2 linked regions of the Homo sapiens genome follow. The protein of the gene in region 1 purifies or fractionates together with the protein of each later gene. This does not show direct contact. Each region holds a gene or a part of one and is shown on either strand. Other genes may lie near its edges.

The links. The genes of interacting proteins can lie anywhere in the genome.
Region 2: the proteins of ACRBP (region 1) and MYO5C purify together in Homo sapiens (affinity purification with mass spectrometry; one large-scale study listed by BioGRID and IntAct). This does not show direct contact.

The regions. Positions count from the first base shown.
Region 1 is NC_000012.12:6,637,575-6,641,003, forward strand, and holds the end of ACRBP (acrosin-binding protein precursor), read right to left. Parts: intron 2,949-3,429; coding exon 2,769-2,948; intron 2,654-2,768; coding exon 2,486-2,653; intron 1,464-2,485; coding exon 1,380-1,463; intron 831-1,379; coding exon 708-830; 3' UTR 501-707; downstream 1-500.
Region 2 is NC_000015.10:52,243,805-52,247,304, reverse strand, and holds part of MYO5C (unconventional myosin-Vc), read left to right. Parts: intron 1-290; coding exon 291-388; intron 389-1,262; coding exon 1,263-1,349; intron 1,350-1,839; coding exon 1,840-1,951; intron 1,952-2,737; coding exon 2,738-2,949; intron 2,950-3,500. UniProt on the Homo sapiens protein: May be involved in transferrin trafficking. Likely to power actin-based membrane trafficking in many physiologically crucial tissues.

The DNA.
Region 1 (3,429 bases):
TGCACTCCAGCCTGGGTGACAGAGCGAGACCCTGTCTCAAACACAAAACAACAACAACAAAAACAACCCCAAGGTTTCCTGATCTAGGCTATAGTTCCTGGTTTTTCCCTTCCTGATTAAGTGCAAGGTGCACACTCCCTATACCCCAGGATTGGTCCCTTTGGAAAAGATCTCATCAGGCTTTGGCCTTTATCCTACAGAGGAACAATACTACACTCGCATCTGACATCACGGGGCTTAGGGCTTCAGAAATGAAGACAGGTGCCCACATGCCCACATCATCCCTAGGGCCCCAGCCTTCTTGGCCTTCCTCAGTTCACCTCCCTGGGTTCTCAGGTCTTCTGCTTCTCCTGGCAGATGGCTGCTTCCCTGAGCACCATTCCCATGAGATTCTCTCACCGGCAGGTGGATCCATAAAACCAGGGGTTGGGGACTGACTGCCACGGGGCAGGGTAGCAGTGCTGAGGATGGGGATCATAACCAGAACAGGCCACACAGGCTGAAGATCAACATTTTATGTAAAGTCATCTTTTAAGGAGGGCGCAGCTCCCACCGTGGCCCTCTCTGGGACTGTTGCTCCAACCCAAGGAAATGTGAGTAGGGGCCGAGTAACAGACCCAGAAGGGGCAGCCTGAAAGCAATGGGGTCTCAAAACAATAGAGAACGTGGGCAGGTTGGGCTGGGGTGTGGGCAGAATAGACGCCAGCTCATCCGAACTGGCCTAGAGTCAAGGTGCTGAACTCCTGGCTCCATCGAAGCACAACGTCCTCACTTTTGCCAGGGCTCAGCGCACTGTAAGTCTCATTCTGCAGACATCTCATGCGGGACACCTACACAGAGATTCAGTGCAGACGGTCTGTATCACAGAGCCAGGTGCCAGGAGTGGGGAGGAGGGGAGGTGTCAGAAGCCCAAAAGAACGAGAGGTGGGCAGGCATGGGCACAGGGCAGTAGAGGGAAGGAGGAAACTCAAATGTGGGTTTTTAAAGCCAGAGGAGACATCAAGCAGCCCAACCCCTTTCATGCAGAAACAGGCGGCTGAGGCTCAGAGGGGGAAGTGCCTCATCCCAGGCTACTTGGTGAGTAAGAAGAGGAGACAGACCGAGACCTCAACGTCCAAGTCCTGGCCCAGCCAAGGGTTCTTCCTGTGGTGCTCTTAGGACCCTCCTCTGTTATCCACCAGCTGCCTAGGAGGGCCTTGCTTCCGCCAGGACTGGAGGAATGGAGGAGAGCCTGCTGGTGGAGGCCTCTGCCCCAGAGATGCAAGCAGGAACCGCTTTCCACATCCTAGCTGCTCGCAGAGGGGGCCTCAGAATAGACCAGTTATGGTGACTGATTGAGGGGGTGCTGGGAGAAGGAGGGGCAGGGCAGGGGTGCTCACCTTCCGATTGCGGTTTCTCATCAGACACTGCTGGCTTTTGAAGGAACAGTAGTTTGGGTACTGGATATAGTCTGTGTCACAAATCTAAGCCAAGAGCCAGAGAGAGGGAAGAGGGTATCAGAAGCCTCACCAGGCAGCAGCACTCCAGGGAATATCTGCTAGGGCAGAGCCAGGGGCAGGGTGTGGCCCAAGACCCAGGTCTTCCACACACAGGCGGCCCCTCACTCCGCTTTCCCTCTGCCTTTCCCCTGCCGCTCTGTCACAGGTTGCTGGGAAGAAGCCAGGAGCCTGGGAGAGTATGAGGCTGCCAGTCAGCTTACTGGGAAAGTGGCTGAGGAAGCGGGAATGGGGCAGGACGGGGTAGATAAGGGTCCAGAACATGGGACAGGGACCCGATTAGTGGCCTGATGTCAAGGATTTTTCTGGTAATGGTAGATAAGGGAAGGGGGAAGTGAGTCACTGCCTTCTTTGGACCTCGCCTCCCCATTCCAGATCAAGGGGCCCAGGGACAAGAGCTGGACATGGGCCCCCCAGCTCAGCTACCAGCCCTTGCTTCAGCTGCCCTTACTTTTCCTTGCCTTGGTTTTCCCTGCTAACTACAGGAGGAGAGGCCTGGATCTAAAACAACAGGTCATTCCACAGGGGAGGTAACTCAGGGGAACGGGGAGCCAAGTTGATTTAATTGAGCAGGGAAGGCACTGGAAGAGCTGGGAAGCCCGTCAGGCTAAGGCCGGGAAGTCCTGGATCACAGGGTTGGGCAGTGGTGCACGTGTCACTCAGTCATTTCTTGTAGAGATGACTCTTTGATTGAGTAGGAAGTGACTTGATCACAGCCACCCAGCAAGTAACTGGCAGAGTTGGGACCAGAACCTCTAGCTCCTGTTTTCTCAGCCCTCTGGGTCCCCACTCCTTTGCCTGCTCTATTGGTGGAGGGTGGGGTGGGGTGCAATGGTCTCTTGGAGAGAGGCAGGAGATTCAGTGAGGACGGGTTCTCAGAAGCCAGGGGCCCAAGCCCCCTTCCACAAACTAGCGCTACTCACAGCAAGTAACTGGAAGGAATGGGGTGAGGGTAGGGATGGGGCTGAGCTTTGGGGAAAGGTTCTAACCTTGGTAGGGAAATCCCCATCCTGGAAGCTAAGGAACTCAGTCTGGAGCCACCCAGAGACTCGGACATCTTCACAGCCTTTCGTGGCAAGCCGGGCACACCAGAAGTCCATGTGGAGCCCACCGTACAAATCCAGCCCGTAAAAGCGGCCTGATTCTGGGGACCCTACCTGTGGCACAGGAGATAGGGGAGAGGTGCGTGCCCCTCCCCACCTGCTGGCCACCACCACCCCACCCCTGCCACCCAGTTCTGCCTTTCCCACTGCGGGCTGCCGGGCTAGATACCTGGTTGCCGATGGACAGGCTCTGGGAGGCAAGCAAGGGGCTGACAAAGGGAGTCTTGTGGGAGGTGTCGCATTGTTGCCGCTGCAGGCTGGCCTCTGAGTGGCACTGCTCCAGCTTCAAGGAGCAGAAGTCACAGAGGGCACAGGTAGACATGTGTCGCCGCCCAAGGCTGTCACAGACCTGGGGCAGGGGAATGGGTGAGGCTGAAGCTGAGAGTCAGCGGCCTGCCTTCTCCCATGCCTCAGCCCTCCAGGGTGGGCCCTGCAGAATGTCTTTGCATTTAGCCTCTTCCAAAAGCTTCTCTGGGTTTTCTACTTGGCCTCCTCCCCAAGGGTTCCTCAAGGACCTTGCCTCAGCTATTTCTTCACCCTCTTCCTGGATGATTTATCTACTCCTAGGTAATCATCTATCTGCGAGTGACACCCAAATCTTTATCACCAGCTCTGATCTCTCTCTTGGGCTCCAAATCCTCATTGCCAAGTGCCTGACAGATGTCTGTGATTGGGTGATCTTACAGATACCCCAACTTAGCCTATCTGAAAAGAACTCATAACCCTCCCCTGCCACCTCTGCTAATGATAATGCTAATATTTACAAAGAGGTGACCCAGTGCCAGCACTATGGCTACACATGCTCTCATTTCATTTAGTTTTCACGACAA
Region 2 (3,500 bases), on another chromosome or scaffold:
TCGTCATACTTCCACCTCCAAGGCAGCACGCACTGGAGCAAACCACGCTCTTGCACAATAACATGGTTTATTCAGTTCTCTGCTGTCTGGGAGTATTAGTGTTCTGTCCACAACAGTAGGACATGCTGATAAACCACAGTCACGGACTGAAACCTTTCATAATAGGTGTTTATGCATGAGGTTAACTTTTCTTCCTATTGAGTAACTTAACAAGGTTGGGCTGCTTTTTACCGTGATGTAAGCAGTAAATTATTTCAGAGCCATGTTTGATCTCTAGCTTTGTTTCCTAGTTCCGCAGCTCTCTGTACTTGCTCATGGAGACCCTCAATGCGACGACGCCCCACTACGTTCGATGCATCAAGCCAAATGATGAGAAGTTACCCTTTGAGTAAGTGTTCTTATGCAACACACAGCGAAGACGTGGGAAGGCAGTTTCTGCCATAAAGTTGGAGAATTTGCTTCCAATTGTCTTGAGATTACCCTGTTTCTGGGTTTTTTTTTAATGATTCAGAACAATGCTGCCCTTTACATAAAATGTTAGCTCAGCCCCTCTGGTTAAACCCCCTCATCTCCAGGGCTAAGCAAAAGGGCTAGATTTGAAAGAATCTTCTACAACTAAAGTTTTTGCAACTTGAACCTTTTACTTGATTAAAAGAAGAATGAGTATGTGTGTTTGTAGAAGGTCATAGAAGGTCAGAACATTTGTCCTCAGACATGATGGCATGAGGCATTATTCTTGTTCTCTGGGACCCATGGAGGAGACCCAAAGCTTGTGAATATAAGGTGTAACAAGTCCCTTGTAGCTTGCTAGAGCTGAAAGAGGTGCCTAAAGGGGGATGAGCTGTCTATGGAGGTGGTGAGTGTGTGTATGGGTCACCAGATGGGTGAGACCTAAGCTGCAGAGCTACCTGTTGGGTGTTCTGTAGAGGAAATTCAAGCATCAGTGGGTGCTTGGGCCAGGCGAGCTAGCATATTTCTTTCCACCTGGTTGTCGTTTGAAGCTCACCTCAAAGGCCAGTTCCCCCATGGCCTTCTCAATGCCACCTCCATCAGAGTCAGCTGCTCCTTTCTCTATATCCCACTGCATCTTTATGGACTGTTTTGCAGAGGTGCTATTTTTCTTGGTCATGCAATAGAAACTTATTAAGTATCTGCTGGGTACCTGGCATAGGGTCACAGTCTAGCCAGGTCTGCTGTGCCTGTTTATGGGCATGTTGAGCAATTACGATGCCTCAACACATAATATCATTGTCTTTTTAAAGATTTGACTCCAAAAGAATTGTTCAGCAGCTGCGAGCCTGCGGCGTTTTAGAAACGATTCGCATTAGTGCACAGAGCTACCCTTCCAGGTATGTTGTCCGTCCTTGTCTTGGAGGGAAAAGTACCTGACATCAGAGCTATGCTGAGAACCAAGGACATGGCTGCCATGATTTTTGTCACATACTTTTGGCTTCTGTAAAGTGCCCCCAAGATTTTCCCACTGCCCTGTGGAAGTCCAGAAGAGGTTGAGAAATAGGCTTTGTAGGGGTCGGAGGTCAACACCACCTTCTCACCCCATCACTGCATCTCGGCTGCTGGTGGTGGCCCCACCGCCTCCCCCGTGTACTAGGGAAGACGCTGAGTGGGAGAAAGAGCACAATTGCTGGGGCAGACAGGAGTGCTCAGGGTGGTCTTGGTAGTGTCCCAGGCAGGCAGGGTATCAAAGATCAGTGCCTTTATCCTCAGGACAGATTGCACCACCCCCGCCCTATGACAACAGTGGCAGGTAAGGCAGCGGAGTCCCCAGACACAATGTGCTTCCTCTGACACTCCTGGCTTTGATCCCCTTTGATTTTCCAGGTGGACATACATCGAGTTCTACAGTCGCTACGGCATTCTCATGACCAAGCAAGAGCTTTCCTTCAGCGATAAAAAGGAGGTGTGCAAGGTGGTTTTACACAGACTCATCCAGGTCAGTTTCCCCACCTCCTGGGATCATGGTCTCCTTCCTGGAAGCACATCTCCCAAACATGCTGTTTCATCTTTGTCTTGAATGCTCAGGACTGTAATCATGAACACCTGAAAGGAAAGAAAATGTGCCCTGAGCATTTGTCTGCTGAAGAGACCATAGCAGAGTGCTCAGTGGGCCATGAGTCCCCGTTAGGGACCCACATCCGAACTCCGGCCTCCCCAGTGTCCTCGTATCCTGTTTAGCTCTCCCACGATCTAACCCAGTCCTCTGTGGACCAGGCTTATAGGATATGGTCAACTGGGGTTGTCACCAAGCCACATGGGCTCCAGGCATGGTGCCTTGTGTGGATTGACATCATTGCTGCAGCGATGAGTTGTGATGGGAAAGAGATGGGGAGTTATAAGGTCCAGCAAAGGGGATGGTGAAGAGAACCCAAAATGGAGACAGAAAACCAAACTTCCCCAGTTTCTTCTACTCCAATGTGGAGACCACGAGAGAGTGGCTGAAGTTCTCTGGCAGCCCAACTGAGAATCGCCGCAAATGACACTCACTCCCCTTCTCACCCACAAATGGATTCCTCAGCCTAAGTCCCATTTCTTCCTCCAGGGTAATTTTAAACAAACAACTCAAAGTATACATTTCTAGATCATGATGTGAGTTTTCTGCCTTAAATGTCAAAATCACAATATTTCTGGCACCTTTGAATCCCTAAAGCTCTTTTCCAAATACTGTATTATAGAAAATCTGACAGATTTTAATTCTAACTATATCATTTTTCTCTTCCAGGATTCTAATCAGTACCAGTTTGGTAAAACCAAAATTTTCTTCAGAGCAGGACAAGTGGCTTATTTAGAGAAACTTCGATTGGATAAACTGAGGCAGAGTTGTGTTATGGTACAAAAGCACATGCGTGGCTGGCTCCAGAGGAAAAAATTCCTCCGAGAGAGACGAGCCGCCCTGATAATCCAGCAGTACTTCCGGGGTCAGCAAACTGTGAGGTATGTTGGAATCAAGGAACACATGTGGAACTGTGGGGCTTTCTGTGCTGATCATCTCCGGCGGGGAGGACTCATCAAGGACAAGGGACCTTTCTCCTGTGACCCAGGGTGCAGACGTGCATGGGTCCCCTTTGTGGTCGTGAGCATTAGGGCAAGAAAGGTCCGTCTCTCAGGGGCAGGTAGTGCTGGCTCTGCCTGGTGTCTGTGTGGTGAGCCGACACCCAGGGCCCTGCAGGGAGGAAGCGCTGGTGAGAGTGTTACTAAGGAGAGTCAGGGTTCCGGAAGCTCAGGGAGAGGCCCGGGGCCCCTTTCCTATGGGAACTGAAAATGCATAAGATCAGCAAGGCCCTAGTGAAGATCCAAAGGACAGATGTCAAGAATAGCCAGCGACCAGCCTGCCAGCAACAGGTGGGGTGCACCATGGCAGAGGGGGTCCCTGCAAGGCCTGGCAGCAAACCAATCACAGAACCCCTAAGCAGGAAGACCACAGCAGCCCCAGCCAAGCCAAGGGCTGAGGGGAGGGTGGTCCACCAGCTGCGCTGATCCTACCT